Homo sapiens: one gene and its partners. The protein of the gene in region 1 interacts with the protein of each later gene in a pairwise test. Each region holds a gene or a part of one and is shown on either strand. Other genes may lie near its edges.

What was found.
Region 2: the proteins of SCAMP5 (region 1) and DNAJC5 come close enough for resonance energy transfer, tested with the Homo sapiens proteins (one study listed by BioGRID).
Region 3: the proteins of SCAMP5 (region 1) and PAXIP1 interact in a two-hybrid assay, tested with the Homo sapiens proteins (one study listed by BioGRID).

The regions. Positions count from the first base shown.
Region 1 is NC_000015.10:75,005,549-75,012,574, reverse strand, and holds part of SCAMP5 (secretory carrier-associated membrane protein 5), read right to left. Parts: intron 4,915-7,026; exon of another isoform or gene 4,863-4,914; coding exon of another isoform or gene 4,847-4,862; intron 2,685-4,846; coding exon of another isoform or gene 2,635-2,684; intron 784-2,634; coding exon of another isoform or gene 736-783; coding exon 729-735; intron 1-728. UniProt on the Homo sapiens protein: Required for the calcium-dependent exocytosis of signal sequence-containing cytokines such as CCL5. Probably acts in cooperation with the SNARE machinery.
Region 2 is NC_000020.11:63,898,106-63,905,131, reverse strand, and holds part of DNAJC5 (dnaJ homolog subfamily C member 5), read right to left. Parts: intron 1-7,026. UniProt on the Homo sapiens protein: Acts as a general chaperone in regulated exocytosis. Acts as a co-chaperone for the SNARE protein SNAP-25. Involved in the calcium-mediated control of a late stage of exocytosis. May have an important role in presynaptic function.
Region 3 is NC_000007.14:154,944,119-154,951,144, forward strand, and holds part of PAXIP1 (PAX-interacting protein 1), read right to left. Parts: intron 5,373-7,026; exon of another isoform or gene 5,180-5,372; intron 3,973-5,179; exon of another isoform or gene 3,886-3,972; coding exon 3,785-3,885; exon of another isoform or gene 3,780-3,784; intron 3,656-3,779; exon of another isoform or gene 3,575-3,655; intron 2,735-3,574; exon of another isoform or gene 2,696-2,734; coding exon 2,561-2,695; exon of another isoform or gene 2,475-2,560; intron 2,470-2,474; coding exon 2,394-2,469; intron 2,376-2,393; exon of another isoform or gene 2,308-2,375; coding exon 2,247-2,307; exon of another isoform or gene 2,242-2,246; intron 503-2,241; exon of another isoform or gene 47-502; coding exon 31-46; 3' UTR 1-30.

The DNA.
Region 1 (7,026 bases):
CCACCGGCCACTCTGCTTTCCCCACCCAGCCGTCCCTACCTCCCCGGGTCAGCTGTGATGATCCCAAAGTAGCCAAAGGCCCTGAGACAGTGTCACTCAGAATAAAAAACAATGTCACCTTGACAGACAGCATTTATTATTTTTTAATTCTGAGTGACACTGTCTCAGGGCCTCAAGGTACCACCCTCTCAGTGGGGGCAGCTCCAGGCAGAAGAAGCGGATGTGTGAGAATCTACAGACGTGGGTTCCAGCCTCCACTCAGCATTTGTGCTCTGGGGCAAATCATCGCCCCTCTCTAGACCTCAGTTTATTTGCTGGAGTGGGGGCTGGGCTACACGGTCCCTAAAGTTCCCTCCAGCTCTGGCATTCTACACCTCTGAGCCTTCTGAACCAGATAAAAAAGGCCTCAGAGTATTAGAAAGCAATAGAGACAGAGGGGAGGAGGGCTGAGCCACTCATGCAGCTAATCAGGCAGATGGACAGTAAGACAAGGACATCAAGGTGCTCAATTCCTGGTCCATAGGACCAAAGATCTGACAGAGGGCTAGACAATGTCATGTTGAAGTTCTCAGACAGGCCTCAGTGGAGAGAGTGGGGAAAGCTTGGGGACAGTAAGATGGAAAGAACCTGGCCTCCAAAGACTAGGGGAGATAAGGGAACCAGGAAGAGGGCCATCCACGCTATGCTCACTGTCATGTCCTACCCACACAGCCTGCCCCTCTCCTTACCTGCCATGATGTTACCAGCTGGCCCAGTGGCCTGCCCACACCTCTTTGTCCTGAACTGCAAGGAAAGAAAAGCCAGAGAAGGATGAGATCAGGGCCACACCCAACCCAGTCCCTCTCTACTCCTCATCTGGGCTGCAAGCTCCCCAGGACAGGACCCAGCACATACTCCCACAGTGCCGTGAATGCAATGGAGGCAGCTCCCCTCCTCCCAGAGCCACCCTTCCACCAGCTGCATCTTACCAGCTGCTCCCGCCCTCTGCTTCAAGGCACAAAATCTACTCTCTGAAAACCCCATCCAAGGGTAGGAAAGGAACCTGGGAGGGGATCCCATACAGGGAAAGCCAAGTGACATTCTATTCCTTGACCTTGAATTACAGACTGAGCCTCGGCCTTGGTCACAGGCTAGCCTCCCTTTGCTCCTTTTGCCTTTGTTCATTTATTAGGACACTTATATGGTGCTGGAAGAATGAGTGAGACAGATGTGGTCCCTGCTCTCCCCATGAAACAGTCAATCACCTCTGCAGTAAATCATACAAAAGGCAAGCACAGCCACCGTGAAAACATACACATCATGTCCTGGTGATCTAATCTGGTCTGGAGAGGCAGGGAAATTAAATTTTTTTAATTAAAAAACTTTTTTTGAGACAGGGTCTCTCTCTGTTGCCCAGGCTGGAGTGCAGTGGTATAATCCCAGCTCACGGCAGCCTCAGCCTCCCCAGGCTCAGGTGATCCTCCAAGCGCAGCCTCCTGAGTAGCTGGAACTACAGGCATGCACCACCAGGCCCAGCTAATTTTTATATTTTTTTGTAGAGATTAAGTTTCGCCATATCGCCCAGGCTAATTTGAATTCCTAGGCTCAAGCAATCCACCTGCTTCAGCCTCCCAAAGTGGTAGGATTACAGGCATGAGCCACTGCACCCAGCCTCAGGGAAATTAAATACAAGTGGTAGTAAAAACCTGAAGCATGAAGAGGAGTTCCCCGGGCAAAACAGCCTTCTAGGCAGATGGGAAAGCATCGTACAGGGACAGTTCCTTACTAGGAAGGAGCTTCACATTTTTTTTTTTCTTAGACAGGGTCTCACTCTGTCACCCAGGCTGGAGTAAAGTGGCACTCCTGGGCTCAAGCCATCCTCCTGCCTCAGCCTCTTGAGTAGCTAGACTACAGGGACAGACTACCATGCTAATTTTTTAATATTTTGTAGAGAGGAGGTCTTGCTGTGTTGCACAGCTGGTCTCAAATTCCTGGCCTCAAGCAATCTTCCCGCTTTGGACTCCCAAAGCACTGGGATTATAGGCATGAGCCACCCATCATAAGGGAAAGAAAGCCACTATGGCCAAAGCAGAGTGCAAATGAGGGGGCAGCAGATGAGGCTGGAAAGGCAAGGTGGGCAGGATGTGCTTCCTGAGACCCTTAGGAGACAAGTTTGAAGGGGTCTTGGTTTTAAGGAGTAGGGGAAAGGGAGCAATTGGAAGACTCCCTGCCCACTTAACCCCGAGTGGATGGTGGAGACCCATCATGACAAGCCTGTGTGAGATGAGGCGGAGGTTCCAGGGGAGGACGAGCAGCTGTGCTAGGGACATACAGGGTAGAGACGCTGGGGGACACCTGGACAGGGCGTCTTATAGGAATCTGGAGGGTACAAACATGCTCTGCTCCTGGGAGTTCAGCAGGAGGCCTGGCTGACCCATGCTAAGTAATCACTGGCAAGTTAAGGCCAAGGAAACCAAGCAGCAATCACCTTGTTAGAACAGTGACTTTGGTGGACATTTATATAGTCAACAGCAGAAAATGGTCCACAACCAAGTGCTAAGGCAATGCAACATTTAAAAGCTGGGCAGAAATTTGCTTAAAGTTTTGGAACAGGAAAAACTAAATCTATGGTGTTAGAAGTCAAGATAGTATTACCCTTGATGGGGCAGCGACTGGGGGCCCGGCATCTGTTCTTGGTCGGGGTTCTGGATACACAAAGGTATGGATTTTGTGAACATTCTCCAAGCATACAGTTACAACTTGTGCAATCTCCTGTGTGTTAGACTTCCATGAGAAGTTTGCTTTAAAATAAAAACTTCAGGCTGGGCATAGTGGCTCACACCTGTAATCCCAGCATTTTGGGAGTCCGAGGCAGGAGGATCACTTGAGCCCAGTAGTTCAAGACCAGTCTGGCCAACACAGTGAGACTCCATCTCTACAAAAAATAAAAAATTAGGCAGGCACGATGGTGCGTGCCTGTAGTCCCAGTTCCTCAGGAGGCTGAAGTGGGAGGATTGCTTGAGTCCAGGAGGTAGAGGCTGCAGTGAGCCATGATTGCACCACTGCACTCCAGCCTGGGCAACAGAGCAAGACTGTCTCAAAGGAAAAAAAGCACACACACACACACACACACACACACACACACACACACACAAACTTCTAGCATTCCAGTCAAATTCTTCTGGACCTGATTAAAAGATCGGGCAATTACAATCTTCGGACTCTTTTGTGATATGGGATCAAATACAGATACAAAAACCCAGTAACATCTACCACAAAAAGAGAAGAGAAGGGTATGATAGAGACAATCAGGAAATGATACCCATACACAGGTGCATTAATTGCGGCACTGTTTTGAATAACAAAGGATTAGAAACCATCAATAGGGGACTGATTAAACCAATGGTAGTCATACAATGGACTGTTCCGCAGCTATTTTTAAAAATGCTTTGCAGCTGTTAAAAATTTTAAAAAGAGGAAGCAGTTCTCTGGGTACTGATATGCAAAAGTCTCCAAAAAGATGAGTAGTTAAAAAAAGCAAGATGTACAACAGTCTGTATGTTATACTTTTCATATTAAAAAAAAGGAAGAGAAGATAATAAGAATATATTTTCCTTTTAACCTAATAATCCTGCTCCTGTTAGTCATTTACCCAGATATAAGAAATGACAAACACACACGTTATTCGACATGACACTATTTGCATTAGCAAAATGCTTAAAGCAACCTAAATGTGACTATTTGAATATACGAGGTGCATCATACAATAGAGTATTACACAGATGTAAAAAAGATGCCAGCCATGGTGACTCACACCTGTAATCCCAGCACTTTCAGAGGCGAAGGCAGGAGGATCACTTGAGGTCAGGAGTTTGAGACCAGCCTGGCCAACATGGTGAAACCCCATCTCTACCAAAAAAATACAAAAATTAGCCAGGCATGATGGCATAAGCCTGTAATCCCAACTACTCAGGAGGCTGAGGTGGGAGAATCGCTTGAACCCAGGAGGCGGAGGTTGCAGTGAGCCAAGATTTCGCTGCTGCACTCCAGCCTGGGTGACAGAGTGAAACCATGTCTCAAAAAAAAAAAAAAAAGAATAAAGATGAGCTCAGTAAACTGCTGTGGAATGCTTTCCAGGATATATTAAGTAAAAAAAAAAAAGCAGAGCACAAAAAGTGTAAATCATATGCTACCCCTTATGTAAGAAAGGGGAAGTAAGAATGCACATATGAATTTGCTTATTTTTGCAAAAGAAACACAGGAAGAATCAACCAGAAAGTAATGAAATAGTCACCTACATAACGGAAGGGCTACGATGAGTAGAGAGACTTCCATTCTTTATATACTTATTAATAAGTTTTTTTAATATACTTGTACACATAAAATGACTTCCATATTTCAAAAACTTAAACCAAAAAGAAAAGCAAACTCTAAAACTGAAACAAAAACAAATCAAGCTAACTATACTTTAAATTGATAACAATCTCACAGACAAGAAAAAAAAAAGAGCCCAAGTAACTTTTGATCACAGTAATTCTGGGTTCTCCTATGTTCTCCTAGAAAGATAAACCTCAAGGGCAAAAATAACTGCAAACAGGCCGGGTGCAGTGGTTCATGACTGGAATTCCAGCACTTTGAGACACCAAGGCAGATGGATCGCTTGGGCCCAGGAGTTCGAGACCAGCCTGGGTAACACAGCAAGACCCCCGTCTCTACAAAAAATACAAACATGGCCAGGCATGGTAGCTCACGCCTGTAATCCCAGCACTTTGGGAAGCCGAGGCGGGTAGATCACCAGGTCAAGAGATCAAGACCATCCTGGCCAATATGGTGAAACCCTGTTCTCTACTAAAAATACAAAAATTACCTGGGCGTGGTGGCATGTGCCTGTAGTTCCAGCTACTCGGGAGGTTGAAGCAGGAGAATTGATTGAACCTGGGAGGCAGAGGTTGCAGTGAGCCGAGATCGTGCCACTGCCCTCCAGCCCGGCGACAGAGCAAGACTCCGTCTCAAAAAAACAAAAACAAAACAAAAAAAAACATTAGCGGGACATGGTGATGTGCGCCTGTAGTCCCAGCTTCTCATGAGGCTGAGGTGGGAGGATCACTTGAGCTCAGGAAGTCGAGGCTGCAATGAAGTGTGATTGCGCCACTGCACTCCAGCCCGGGCGGCAGAGCAAGACCCTGTCTCAAAAAAAGAAAAAGAAACTGCAAACAAGTCATGAATTTTAGCAAGTTTACTCTTACTGCTGGTACTGCTGTGACGACTCTAAAGCTTTGCCCGTATACTACAGGAGAGGGCAAATGAATCAGTGTGCTGATTATTTGGGGAAGGTGGTTTCTCACTGTAGGAGATACAATTCAGACCGCGGAAAGGTAAGAAAGAGCCTTGTGGTGTTGGATTCAAAGCGGAGGTATCAGTATGAACACAGAATTTTAAAAATATATATGGCTGGTCCCAAGCCAGGAAAAGGAAATACAAGGTTAGCCTGGAACATCTTGTGGTATCATAAAGAAGAAAGTACTCAATAACTAATGGAGGCAAGTCAAAAGGACACAAGAACCAGTCTGAAAGGGCTACCACCAACCAAATTTGGGACAATTAGACTATCAAAAGTAATAACCACGTGGATTTTTTTCTCTCTTTTTTTTCTTGAGACAGAGTCGCGCTCTGTTGCCCAGGCTGGAGTGCAGCAGCATGATCTCAGCTCACTGCAACCTCCGCCTCCTGGGTTCAAGTGATTCTTTTGCTTCAGCCTCCCGAGTAGCTGGGATTACAGGCACCCGCCACCACACCCAGCTAATTGTTTTTTTTTTTTTTTGAGATGGAGTCTCGCTCTGTCACCCAGGCCAGAGTGCAGCGGCGTGATCTCGGCTCACTGCAAGCTCTGCCTCTCTCCTGCCTCAGCCTCCCCAGTAGCTGGGACTACAGGTGCCCGCCACCACACCTGGCGAATTTTTTTGTATTTTTTTAGTAGAAACGGGGTTTCACCGTGTTAGCCAGGATAGTCTCGATCTCTTGACCTCGTGATCCACCTGCCTTGGCCTCCCAAAGTGCTGGGATTACAGGCATGAGCCACAGTGCCCGGCCAATTGTTGTATTTTTAGTAGAGACAGGGTTTCACCATGTTGGCCAGGCTAGTCTTGAACTCCTGGCCTCAAGCCATCCACCCACCTCAGCCTCCCAAAGTGCTGGGATTACAGGTATGAGCCACAGTGCCCGGCCCACATAGATTTTTTTTATTATTAATCCATGAGTCCAAAGTGACATTATTATTTTATTTTTTAAAAGAGAGGGAGGGCCTGGCTCAGTGGCTCACATCTGTAATCCTAGCACTTTGGGAGGCCGAGGCAGGAGGATCACAAGGTCAGGAGTTCGAGACCAGCCTGGCCAACACAGTGAAACCCTGTCTATACTAAAAATACAAAAAATTAACTGGGTGTGGTGGCGGGCGCCTGTAATCCCAGCTACTCCAGAGGCTGGGGCAGGAGAATAGCTTGAACCCGGGAGGCGGAGGTTTCAGTGAGCCGAGAGCACGCCACTCTACTCCAGCCCGGGTGACAGAGCTAGACTCCATCTCAAAAAAACAAAGCAAAAAAAAAAAAAAAAAAAAAGGGAGGCCGAGGCGGATCACTTGAGGTCAGGAGTTCCAGACCAGCCTGGCCAACATGGTGAAACCTTGTCTCCACCAAAAAATACAAAAAATAACCAGGCATGGTAGCACGTGCTTGTAGTCCCAACTACTCGGGAGGCTGAGGCAGGAGAATTGCTTGAACCCGGGAGGCGGAGGTTGCAGTAAGACGAGATCGCGCCACTGCACTCCAGCCTGGGCGACAGAGTGAGACTCCGTCTCAAAAAAAGAAAGAAAGAAAGAACATCATGTGCCTCCTGCTATGCTGTGCACAGAAGGACTCAAGGTCATGTATGAATACTGTTGCCAAAAAAAGGTTTAATCTGAAAATAATTATGAAAAAACAATCCGACAAATTCAGATTGTGGGAAATTCTACGAGACAAATGTTAATGTCATGAAAGACAGAAATTGGCA
Region 2 (7,026 bases), on another chromosome or scaffold:
TACACAAAAGACAGGAAAAAAAAAAAAAAGCCAGGCACGGTGGCTCACCCTATAATCCTGACACTTTGGGAGGCCGAGGCAGGCGGATCACCTGATGTCAGGAGTTCGAGACCAGCCTGGCCAACATGGTGAAACCCCCGTCTAGACTAAAAATACAAAAATTAGCCGGGCGTGGTGGCGGGCACCTGTAATCCCAGCTACTCTGGAGGCTGAGGCAGGAGAATCGCTTGAACCCGAGAGGCAGAGGTTGCAGTGAGCCGAGATCGCGCCGTTGCACTCCAGCCTGGGGTACAACAGCGAGACTTTGTCTCAAGAAAAACAAAAACAAACAAAAAAACCCCCACAGTTTATTAATCTGCCTTATTGTCCTTTGCCTTTTAAAAATATAAGATAAGCCTGTTTAAGGCTTTACTGGGAGGCAGCTGTCAGTCAGCCAGCTGTTCTGGAGTCAGTCCAGGGCAAAGGCTGCTGTAGGAACAGCATTAGCACAACTTTGCCTATTTATCCTTAACCAGAGCAGGTTTACAAGGATGCCTATACCATGAACACCTGCACGCATCTCAGTCCGCCCACCTGGAGGTCAGACACACTAAGAGGCAGCTGGACCAGCTCCCTGTTCAAGGCCACTTCAGATTCTATGTGAGTTACAGTGCCCTTGTCTTAAAGTATTTTCATAAATGTGAATTAAGCAGTGCTCACACCAGGGAGAAGGATGCTGTGAGTCTGTCTGTTGGTCTGCTGGTGACAATCAGTTAGGGTTACCCAACCTGGCGGGATGATGCAAGAGAAAACAGCACCAACAGAAACCACATCGTAAGAGGTAATTTTGGGGAAAAAAGGGTAATTTTGTAAATCCTGTGTTGTCACTTTAACATGTATGATGACATTATTTGTGCTTATTCTTCAATATTATACCTTTATACTCGAGAATCTAAAAAACTGTTTAAGACCCACCCTGCATGGCTGTCCTGGGGATTACGGCTAATGCATATTCGGCAACCTTGTCCCAGAACACCTGTTCAACAAACCACGGTTTGCCTCATTTCAGAGTGTTTTGCTATTTGGACACGGGGTATTCTTTTTCATCCCCCACTGCAACCTCCGCTTCCCAGGCTCCAGGGATCCTCCCACCTCAGCCTGACCTCAGCCTCTCGAGTAGCTGGGACCACAGGCATGCACCACCACGCCCAGCTAACTTTTGTATTTTCTGCAGAGATGGGGTTTCCTCATGTTACCCAGGCTGGTCTCAAATTCCTGAACTCGAGAGATCTATCCACCTCAGCCTCCCAAAGTGTTGGGGTTACAGGTGTCAGCCACTGCACCTGCCCAAATTTTTGTATTTTTAGTAGAGACGTGGTTTCGCCATGTTGGCCAGGCTAGTCTCAAACTCCTGGCCTCATGTAATCTGCTTGCCTTGGCCTCCCAAAGCACTGGGATTACAGGCTTAAACCACTAAGCCTGGCCAAAAATGTTTTTAATTTTTTAAAAATTTCTATACGAAGAGCCTTATTAAAAGTTTGAGATGGGCCGAGCGCAGTGGCTCACACCTGTAATCCCAGCACTTTGGGAGGCCAAGGTGCGCAGACCATGAGGTCAAGAGATCGAGATCATCCTGGCCAACATGGTGAAACCCCGTCTCTACTAAAAAATACAAAAATCAGCCGGGCGTAGTGGCGCATGCCTGTAGTCCCAGCTGCTACAGAGGCTGAGGCAGGAGAATCGCTTGAACCCAGGAGGCGGAGGTTGCAGTGTGCCAAGATCGCACCACTGCTCTCCAGTCTGGTGACAGAGACTCCATCTCAAAAAAGAGAGTTTGAGGTGAGTCAGTGAGGTGGTGCGTGCCTACAATCTCAGTTACTGAGGGTTAGGGTGATTCTAATCTACTGAGACTGTAGGCATGCACCACCTTGGGAGGCTGAGGCAGGAGGATCGAGCCCAGGAAGGCCAACCTGGGCAACATGTGGAGGCCCCATCTCTACAAAAATTAAAACATTAGTCAACTGTGGTGACACATACCTAAAGTCCCAGCTACTTGGGAGGCTGAGATAGGAGGATTGCTTGGGCCTGGGAGAATGCAGTGAGCTAAGACTGTGTCACTCCTCTCTAACTTGGGTGAGAGACAGAGTGACACCCTGTTGTAAAAAAAACAGGATGTGGCAGGGCGCGGTGGCTCACGCCTCTAATCCCAGCACTTTGGGAGGCCGAGGTGGGCAGATCACGAGGTCAGGAGATCGAGACCATCCTGGCTAACACGATGAAATCCCGTCTCTACTAAAAATACAAAAAACATTAGCTGGGCGTGGCGGCGGGTGCCTGTAGTCCCAGCTACTCGGGAGGCTGAGGCAGGAGAATGGCATGAACCCAGGTGGCAGAGCTTGCAGTGAGCCGAGACTGAGTCACTGCACTCCAGCCTGGGCGACAGAGCAAGACTCTGTCTCAAAAAAAAAAAAAAAAAACAAGATGAGGCCAGGTGCGTTGGCTCACGCCTGTAATCCCAGCACTTTGGGAGGCCGAGGTGAGTGGATCACCTGAGGTTGGGAGGTCGAGACCAGCCTGACCAACATGGAGAAACCCCATCTCTACTAAAAATACAAAATTAGCTGGGTGTGGTGGCACACGCCTGTAATCCCAGCTACTCAGGAGGCTGAGGCTGGAGAATCACTTGAACCCAGAAGGCAGAGGTTGCGGTGAGCCAAGATCACACCGTTGCACTCCACCAGCCTGGGAAACAAGAGTGAAACTCCGTCTCAAAAAAAAAAAAAAAAAAAAAAAAGATGAGGCCAGGAGCAGTGGCTCACGCCTGTAATCCCAGCACTTTCGGAGGCCGAGCTGGGCGGATCACAAGGTCAGGAGATCGAGACCATCCTGGCTAACACGGTGAAACCCCATCTCTACTAAAAATACGAAAAATTAGCCGGGCGTGGTGGCGGGCGCCTGTAGTCCCAGCTACTCGGGAGGCTGAGGCAGGGGAATGGCGTGAACCCGGGAGGCGGAGCTTGCAGTGAGCCGAGATCGCGTCACTGCACTCCAGCCTGGGCGACAGCACAAGACTCTGTCCCCCACCCAAAAAAAAAAAGCATTATTATTTTAAAGAACACATCAAGAAAGAACTAACAAAATTTATTGCGACTGGCAAAAATGTAAAATCTCAGATTTTAACAGCTAGTCCTATCGCAGCAGCTAAAAGAACACCAAAGTGCTGTGGTAAAAGGCCCCGCAAGCAAAGGGGAAAGACAGACACCATCTGAGGGCTACGAACTTGGCAAGAGATGACAGAAGCTACAGTCTGTACTCCTGGACCCAGAATTTCCTTCGTTATTTGTCTTAGGGAAACCTTCTTACAATAAAACACAATCCTATTTAATAAAGAAAAATCCGATGGGACTGCTCAGCAAAGATCCAAACATTCGCTCTGCTGCTAATCCCTCCCAATAACAGGAGGAGCAAAATAAAAGCCAGGCAGGGCCGCACACTCCACACACTCCCTCTGCTGAGCTGCAGTCACTCCTCCCGTCAGGCACCTGCAGCCTCGTCCGGGGTAGAGGCCTCTGGCCTGGGCTCGCCTCCACTCTGAGACTGATGTGGAGCGCGCGGACGCAGCCTCTGGCACCTGAATTCAGCTCCTGCTTCTTCAAGGGTCAAGAGTAAGACGGGATATTTTCGTTCTGCAGTTTCACTAGAACACATTTCCACCCTACCTGGTGAAAAAATAGAGGCACAGGGCAGGGAGAGCTCTCCCCGAAGTCAGCCGCGCTCTAGAGACAGCAAGGAGGGCAGGGCACAGCCGATGGGGCTGGGAAGTCGATTCCATCTTCCGACCTGCCAGCATCATGATTTCATAACAGGCACAGAATGCCTCAGAACGCAGATTGAGCACAGTGGCTCATGCCTGTAAACCCAGCACCTTGGGAGGCCAAGGTGGGTTGATTACTTGAGTTCAGGAGTTTGAGACCAGCCTGGACAACATGGTGAAACCCCATCTCTACTAAAAATACAAAAATTAGCTGGGCGTGGTGGCACACGCCTGTAATTCCAGTTACTCAAGAGGCTGAGGCAGAAGAATCACTTGAACCCGGGAGGTGGAAGCGGCAGTGAGACACGATCGTGCCACTGCACTCCAGCCTGGATGACAGAGCGAGACTCCGTCTCAAACAAACAAAGAATCCCTGGACACAGCAATGCAGACACTACATGGCTCTGGACACTTCACCTCGTAAATGATTATTTCTGCTGGTGATACATGTTCAATGTAGAATATTTAAAGGGACAATACAATTATAAACCCATGAAAAATAAGATTCATTCACATCCATATTCAAGGAATCTTCACTAAGCACTCACAACACAACACAAAAATTTAAAAATGTCACTCAGGTTTAATATGTCAAGAATAAATGACAAAGTTCTCTGTCATAGAAATAAGTTTTTTGAAACCATTCATGCAAAATGTAGAATGATGTTGCAACAAAGTTAAATTGTGGCATATGCAGGTCTGTCCTGAGGAGGAAATTATTGATCAATACAGAACTTCCTTTTTTTTTTTTTTTTTTTTTTTGAGACAGTGTCTTGCTCTGTCGCCCAGGCTGGAGTGCAGTGGAGCAATCATGGCTTGCTGCAGCCTCAGCCTCCCAGGCTCAGGTGATCCTACCACCTCAGCCTCCGAGTAGCTGGGACTACAGCTGCATGTCACCATACCCGGCTAATTGTTTCTAGTTTTAGTACAGATGGGGTTTTGCTATGTTGCCCAGCCTGGTCTTCACTTCTGGACTCTAGCAATCCGCCTGCCTCGGCCTCTCAAAGTGCTGGGATTACAGGCATGAGCCACTGCACCAGCCCAGAATTTTCAGAGACATGTCCCAAACCTGGTCTAAGTACTTCTTTCTTTAGAAAATGAGATGCTGGTTGGACGATCACTTGAGTCCAGGAGCTCAAGACCAACTTGGGGCTGGGCTCAGTGGCTCACGCCTATAATCCCAGCACTTTGGGAGGCCAAAGTGGGTGGATCACCTGAGGTCAGGAGTTCAAGACCAGCCTGGCCAACATGGCAAAACCCCATCTCTACTAAAAATACAAAAATTAGCCGGGTGTCATGGCAGGCGCCTGTAATCCCAGCAACCCAGGAGGCTGAGGCAGGAGAATCACTTGAACCTAGGAGGCAGAGGTTGCCATGAGCGGAAACCGTACCGTTGTACTCAAGCCTGGGTGACAGAGTGAGACTCCGTCCCCCAACCAAAAAAAAAAAAAAAAAAAAGCCCAGGCGCAGTGGCTCACACCTGCAATCCCAGCACTTTGGGAGGCCAAGATGGGCGGATCACAAGGTCAGGAGATCGAGACCATCCTGGCTAACACCGCGAAACCCTGTCTCTACTAAAAATACAAAAAATTAGCCTGGCGTGGTGGCGACCGCCTGTAGTCCCAGCTACTCGGGAGGCTGAGGCAGAAGAATCACTTGAACCCAGGAGGCAGAGGTTGCAGTGAGCCAAGGTCACGCCACCGCACTCCAGCCTGGGTGAGAGAATGAGACTCCGTCTCAAAAAAACAAAAGAAAATGAAATGCTGTCCTAATTTCTGCAATTTCAATTTGAAATATCAATGCTTGCAAAACTCATACAAGTTAAAACAATTTTTATTTCTAATGACCTGTATCTATTAAATGTCTGTGATGTACCAAGAATAAAGCAGAACACACTTCCTCATTAACACACATGCACCCAAAGTTAATGCAAAGGGTGATGAGAGACAAAATCTACACTCAAGGTTGTTGGGTAATCTAATCCTTAAATCTTCTGGGTTGAACTGCCTGTGACTGATAACAGACTAGCTGCTAATCCTCTTCAGGGATGTCATTATCTGAGGGGTCCTGGCATGGCAGTCCCAGCTCCTAGATTAGGGGTGGCATTTTCATAAAACAAGACTATTACTGTTTTTCAGCCTCTTTGTCCCTTCTATTTAGGAAGCAGGTGATGAGACACCTTTCATTTACTGCCTCCTTTTTTCTCCCAGCAGGACGCAGGGGAAGCACCACTACCCTCATCTGACAGAACGCAGAGGCTCAGAGTCACAGCGGCCCCAGTCACGTGAGCCCTGATCTTGTCCTCTTTCACGAAGGAAGGCCTAGCACAGATTCTGCTGCCACAGTGGGAAGGCCTATGGCGGGGCAGGAGGTGTGTCTGACAGAAGACGGTGCTTCTTGGACACATCTCAGGACTTTGTGGCACGAGAACGTTCTAATCAGAACATCACGATGAGTCTCACCTTAGAAGCACTGCAGTTTGTTTGTTTGTTTGTTGTGAGAGGGAGTCTCGCTCTGTCGCCCAGGCTGGAGTGCAGTGGTGCTATCTCAGCTCACTGCAACCTCTGCCTCCCGGGTTCAAGCAATTCTCCTGCCTCAGCCTCCCTAGTAGCTGGAATTACAGGTGCCCGCCACCACACCCAGCTATTTTTGTATTTTTAGTAGAGACAGGGTTTCACCATGTTGGCCAGGATGGTCTCGATCTCTCGATCTCAAGATCTGCCCGCCTCGGCCTCCCAAAGTGCTGGGATTACTGGTGTGAGCCACCGTGCCCGGCCTAGAAGCACTCATTCTAACTGCCCACTTGGAGATAACTGGAGTGTTAAGGGTCTCTTCTCTATGTCTTGTGCAGGGCTAGCCACCATGTTCCATTTCTCTACAAATGGCTTTTTCCAACCCAGCCCGAGGACCCAGGGGTCTGTTTCCTTCCTGGAGAAATACTGCTTTCATTTGCTGTTACAGTTTACCTGCAGCATTACATACTCCTAACTGGGTATCACATTCACCTTACTGCCTGATTTCAGAAGCAAACTCCACCTCAGATAAAATTCTACCTTATCATGACTCCCCGCCCCACTGCATTTTAGTCATTCATTCAACAAACACCAACTGCTAACCCCAGGCACACACGTGAGCACCTCACATCTGGGCTCTAAGGATAAAACCACCAGCACCTTGTACAGGGCTCTTCCTGGTGATGCCAAATACTTAGAAGAAACCTGGTCTAGAGAAGA
Region 3 (7,026 bases), on another chromosome or scaffold:
GAGTCGACATGCACGGCAGCCTAGACGCCATCAGTTAAACTTATATGTAGGCTTGTTGAGGAAAACGACTTTCAAACACAAGGCAAAAGAAAAACATGAAACCAAGGGTTCCAACATTCATCATCCAGTTTCAGAGACACCCTTGAAGGAATGCTACAGCCTCTTTCTTACCCATTCAAACCAGTCGCTCTGCTGCATACCCACATCACAGGAGGCCCTCAGCCCCGACACACAGGCTCACTCAGCCCGGGGACATCAGCACCTGTGCCAGCTCCGCAAGGTATCCACCATGCGGCCAGAACTGAGGCCCAGCAATAGCTGAAATGTCCTTTAAATTAACATGTACAACACACAACCCCCAAGAGCTGACATCCCCAAAGCCCCACCACAAATAGCTGACTCCTACTTATACCTGCAGGAGCAGGTAGTGACCTCTGCAATTCTAAACCGTCCACTTTGGGCAAAATTCATCAAGCTATGGATATGAAAAAAGGCCCCCAAGGTAATACTCATAAGTCTCCTGTATGACTTTTAAAGCAATTTCTTCTGAAAGTAAATGTAGTGTAGAACAGGCTTTCACAAATACAAACATGAATGTTAGGAAAAAGTCTGGAAAAAATGCAAGAGTACATGTTGTATAAAAACCAAATGCTTATAGCATATCTGTAAAAATTTAACAGGCCTCTTATCATTCCTATCAGTAGCTCCTACAATAATTTTCTAATAGATGGCGGTATGGAATACAGCAAGCTCTGGTATGAATGGTAAGAGCGTTTCTGCACCAAGCCTCATTCCAACTAGACAGGCTATTTATTTATGGCTAAACATGACATTGGATTCTGGGACTGAGGCAAATTTTACTTCTTTTTTTTTTTTTTTTTTTTTAAAGACAGAGTTTCGCTCTTGTTGCCCAGGCTGTAGTGCAATGGCGCGATATTGGCTCACTGCAACCCCTGCCTCCCAGGTTCAAGTGATTCTCCTGCCTCACCAAGTAGCTGTGATTACAGGTACCCGCCACCATGGCCAGCTAATTTTTTCTATTTTTAGTAGAGCCAGGGTTTCACCATGTTGGCCAGGCTGGTCTCGAACTCCTGATCTCAGGTGATCCACCTGTCTTGGCCTCCCGTGCTGGGATTATAGGCATGAGCCACCACGTCCGGCCAAATTTTACTTCTTAAAAGTGCTTTTCTCTCAGTGATATCAAGGTCTTCTGTCTACTATTATAACCATAAGCTCTTTAGCGTTAAGAGGAAAATGTTTGATAAATGTAATTAACTGGATGAATGTCAGTGTATTTAAATGTAAATATACTTAAATGTAATTACCTGGATGAAACAGGCACACACGAAGAAAAAAAAACTCGGCAAGGATGGGTATCATTCTGACCTCTGCGCCTTACTGAAGCAGTCCTATCCCAAACACAAAATTCCCCTGCTTAAGGAAAGGTCCACTGAGGTTGACACTGGTCAGAGGTGGCAGAGGCTCCCACCCTCACAGAGAGGAGGAGCTCCAGCCTCATTGCAGGAGGCCCAGGGAGAAGTCCTGAGAACAGCCCTGAGAGAAGGTGCTCTGCAATGGGAAACGGAAGTGGAAACAGAATTTTCCCATAAGGACCTGTAAGGCATGTTTTGCTTCACTGATAGGCTGTTCCTACATTAAAATAATAATTCAGAGATTTTTAATAAGGAATTCAAATAACAGATGATGAGCTTTATTTTTTCCTGAATGTCTGAAATAGAAAAAAGCCTAGGTGTCAATATTCTAAAGACTGACCTTTGCATTTTCCTGACATGTTGATGAAGTATTCATTCTGCCGCTTCCATTTAGTAGTAATTTATCTCCCATCCCAAAGTTCCTGAGTACAAAGACTATATACGAACTAAATTTCATTTGGAAAACTACAAACTCAAAGGTGAGCTGATAAAAAGAAACATATATTTATTTTTGCAATTATTTTCTATTTTATCTAATTGTCAAATTCTTTAATACCTCCATAAACTAGACAGTATAGATCCTTTCTAATTAACATCACCTATTAAAACTGAACTCTCAGTAAGTTAAGAGAATATTTTTACTAGCAACTCAAATGAATATTCTGAAGAGAAAAGAATTGTTCACTGCATAAATCACAATAGCAAAGAAAGGAAAAATGGCTTGCAAAACAGGAAAGGTACTGCCTTATTAACCTGGGAAATCCATTTCATATCTAACCCGTCTACTTTTTAATTCTCTTTTGGAAAGGATATGATTCATAGTCCAGCGTTTGAGTGAGCACTCCAGTCAGAACGAACTCTGCATTGTGAACATCTGAACAGGGTGGAAACAGACACTTTAGTTAGAGATCCACTGCTGTGCGTGCACACATACTCACACAGGTAAGCGGGGAAACGTACCTATGCCTCTGGCAAAATATTCTCGGCATAAATGAAGGTCATTTTCACAGGATATTAAAATTATTTCCGACAAACTCTAAGGAAAAGAAAATGAGTTTCTCAGTGACCGAACGCTGAATGTGATACAGGGCAATGACGGACTCGCTGGCGGACTCCACTCTACCCACCGAGTTCTGCTTGTGCTCCATGAGCTTCCGGAAAGATGGCTGCTTGGATAACACCTTTCCTCCTGCACACTCTACGATTGCCTTCATAGTGGAAAGACTTGGGCAGATTCCAGGTGTGATGTAAAAATATTTTGCCTAAAATTAAATGAAAATATATGTATTATGTTCTTAAAATGCTTTAATTTTTAGAGTACATAATTCTCATAGATTCTGCCCTGAGATTTTTGACAAAATTTCAAATTTTATGACATTATGAAGGTACTATTCTCCTACTAGCACTCAATCTGAAGTGGAAGAGGAATCCAGCTATGTAAATTTGGAATGTAAGCATTTTCACATGTTAAGTATGCCTGAAGATGATTTAAAGTAACCAGAACTTAAGTCCCTAAAACAAAGTGTTTTGTGAATAAGCAAGAATATTACAAATATTTTTCACAATTTCTATACAATTTTAAATCAGCATTATATTTCACCACACTTATCTGCCCAGCAACAGCCTCTGGCATAGCATGCTGCCTGGCTTATATCCCTTTTCTTTATTTTCTCCATATTATTTGAACTCAGAGCAGGAAATGATATTGATGCTTAAGATTTAATTATCTAACAAGATTGCTCCTGAGGATACCACAAAATACTATTCTGTCTGAAACTGCAAATAATTTCTAATTCCTGTTGACTCCTTAAGAAGGTTAAAGAACCGATTATCTTTATTGATTTACTTAGTTCTTTGGTACAAAAAAAATTCCTAGCTGTTCTAACACTTATCTAACATTTAAAAATCTTTTAGTACTGAATTATATCTATGCACACACTGAATATTTTCCCAAGTATCTTCTCCAGCTGAATATACATTTACTGACAATAGTACGAAGTAAGCGATGTCCTCTAAAGATTTATTAAAAGCAGAAAAATGAACATGCCTCTTAACCAATTACTCAAAAACCTATTCTTTGAATAACTTATTTCTCATAGATGTATTTATTAAATTTGTGTACTTATTTTTAAACATTATAGTAAAGAAAAGTTCTCTAGAGATGTGCTGTGGTTCACAGGAGGAAGACCTCCAGTGGCAATGTCCAAGAAGGAAGCCAAGAGGTAAATGGGATGCAGGGTGAGCCCAGCTCCCCTGGAGGCGCACTTCCCACCAAATCACCTGGTAGTTCCCTTGAGCAGGTCCGTGTGTTATGCTTACTTGGACTGATTTACTTTTCCCTTAAAGTGTACCTTAAAGAGTGGAGAAACGTGTGCCCGTTTTAAGGATTCTTCCAAGCTGAAAGAGAAAAGTACTTCTGCCTCAGCATCTCGGAGAATGTAGTTCTGCTCATCTGGAAAACAGAACAGCACATACTCTGAAAAGTGTGGACACGTGAAGTGTGGCAAGTGTGACCCACAAAATTCTCGCCCATATTCAGGTACATAATATTACAGCTACATTTACCTGTACAGCCTTCGGATATTTAAATGTCACCATTATATTTCATTTACTTCCCTCTAAAAACAGCCAGACCAAAAAGACAGACAGGTATTTTTTCTCCTAGATCAGTGGTAATTAACCATTTGGGGTCATAAACTCTTGAAAAAAACGGGCTGGGTGTGGTGGTTCATGCCTGTAATTCCAGCACTTTGGGAAGCCGGGGAAGGAAAGCTGCTTGATGCCAGGAGTTCGAGAACAGCCTGGGCAACACAGTGAGACTTCATCTCTACAGAAAAATTTTAAAATCAGCTTGGCATGGTGGCATGTGCCTGTAGTCCCAGCTACTCGGGGGACTGAAGTGGGAGGATCGCTTGAGTCTGGGAAGTTCGAGGCTGTGGTGAGCCATCATTGCACCACAGCACCCCAGCCTGGGCAACAAAGTGAGATCTGGTCTCAAAATAATAGTAATTTTTTTTTTTTTAACAACAAAAATGTAAAAAAAGAAAAAAAAAATTACTGAAAAATATGAACCCTCTTCCCATAGCTGCTCCTCCCCTCTTTACCCCCCGACTATTTTAGGAAGTTCACCAACTTTCCAAGCCCGCAGATCTCAGGTTAAAATCTCCAGTCCTAGAAAGACAAGCTTCAAATAATCCCATCCAAGTGTATATTATATATATATATGTTATATATATACACTAACTCCTCAAGGACTTGTAGGACATTGGAGTCATTTGGCTCATAATCAATTATGTGAATTACCAAACTTTAAAGATTTACCAAACACACATTCAAGTATATAAAAGTATACAGCAATTTATAAAGGATAGTTTTATCAATTTTTAAAGACTTCTGACAATTATTAATAATTGACAGATTTTCAGTTTTCATAGCAACATTTTAAGAAATGTGTCAAAAGGTAAAGATCACAAAATGTTTCAATCTTCCTATAAATATGCCTCATATTCAGAAAACCATTTCTCCTCCGCCGCCATTTCCTACCAACCATACAGCATAATAAGGCAGCTCAAACCCAATAATATATACATCAAAAGCAGAAAACAAGGAAAAGTGATTTGGGATTGGCAAACTGGGGTTGACAAGATGATACATATTTTAGGATTTGTGGGCTATGTATTATTTCTCCTGCATATTCCTCTTCTCTTTTTTAAGCAATATTTAAAAAATGTAAAAACCATTTTCAGCGTATGGACCAGTTTGCTGACTGCTGGGCAGGAGCAACCACATCATGACAGAAATGCAGGGATCTGTTCACCAACGGCCAGAAATACAAAATCAATCCCTGAGTCAACCAGCAGATAGAAAGGCTGCTTTTTAGGTGAAAGGAGAAAAAGAATGTCTAAAATTTGGAAAAACAAAAAATGATGAATTAAAAAAGGAACAAAAAAAGTACTGTTACACATGAGATGGTATATTTGAAGTGTTACTTTCAAAGCTGATATGCCTTCTGAAGAACTTGTGTGAGATCACCAAGAATAGTTAATGTTTATGATAGAGAAAACACCACCGGGCGCGGTGGCTCACGCCTATAATCCCAGCACTTTGGGAGGCCGAGGTGGGCGGATCTCTTGAGGTCAGGAGTTCAAGACCAGCCTGGCCAACATGGTGAAACCCTGTCTCTACTAAAAAATACAAAAAAATTTAGCCAGGCGTCGTCGTGGTGGGCGCCTGCAGTCCCAGCTACTAGGGAGGCTGAGGCAGGAGAATGGCTTGAACCCAGGAGGCAGAGGTTGTAGTAAGCCAATGGCACCACTCTACTCCAGCCTGAGCAACAGACTGGGTGAGACTCTGTCTTAAAAAGAAAAGAAAGTAATATTGAAAAATACAGTAATACAGCTAAGACGATCCTGTCACAGATGAGACATTGAGATTTTGGTTTTTTCAAACAGGGTTATGTTACCTTAGTAGTAGCAATGTAAAGACTCAACCTGAACATTAAACTTTTCATGGAAGTACAAAAGAAATGAGTATCCTAGAAATTGATTATAATATTGATGTCTCAAATTTTATGTAAGTTACACATAAATATAAAATCCCAAAAACATGCACCTACCAAAACAGGTGGAGAAAAGAGTGTTTTCAACAAATGATGCTGGAACAACTGCACATCCATATGCAATAAAAGGAAGCTGGACACAGACTTTACCCTCTTTTAAAAAAAACTGACCCAAAAATGGAACACAGACCTAAATGTAAAATGCAAAACTATGAAACTCCTAGAAGATAACACAGGAGAGAATCTAAGGGACCTTGAGTTTGGCAATGACTTTTTAGATACAACACCAAAGACACAATCCATGAAAGAAATAAGAAGTAACCTGGACCTCACCTATTAGAATGGCCAAAACCCAGAGCACTAACACCAGCATATGCTGAGGAGGATGTGGAGCAACAGGAGCTCCCATTCACTGCAGGTGGGAATGCAAAATGGCACAGGCACTTCAGAAGACAGCCTGGCGGTTTCTTACAAAGCTAAACATACTCTTACCATATGATCAAGCAATTGCAACCTTGTTGATTTACCAAAAGGAGTTGAAAACTTACGTCCACACTAAAACCTGTACATGGATGTTTTAGCAGCTTTACTGCTAACTGCGAAAATTTAGAATCAGCTAAGATGTCCTTGTGTAGGTGAGGGGCTGAACAGATACATTCTGACAATGGAATATTATTTAGTGCTAAAAAGAAATGCTTTATGAAGCCATGAAAAGACATGGAGGAAGCTGGGACGTATATTGCTAAGCAAAGGAAGCAAATCTGAAAATCCTATATACTGTATGATTCCCAATATGTAACATTCTGGAAAGGGCAAGACTATAGAAAGAATAAAAGATCAGTGGTTGCCAGGGGTCAGCAGGCAGGAAGGAATGAGTGGGTGGAGCACAGAGGATTTTCAGGGCAGTGGAACAACTCCATATGACGCTGTAAAGCAAAATCATGTCCTTACACATTTGTTAAAACCCAATGACTGTTCAAGGCCAAGAGTGAGCCCTAATGTAACTATGGACTTTGGGTGACTGGCCAAGAGTGA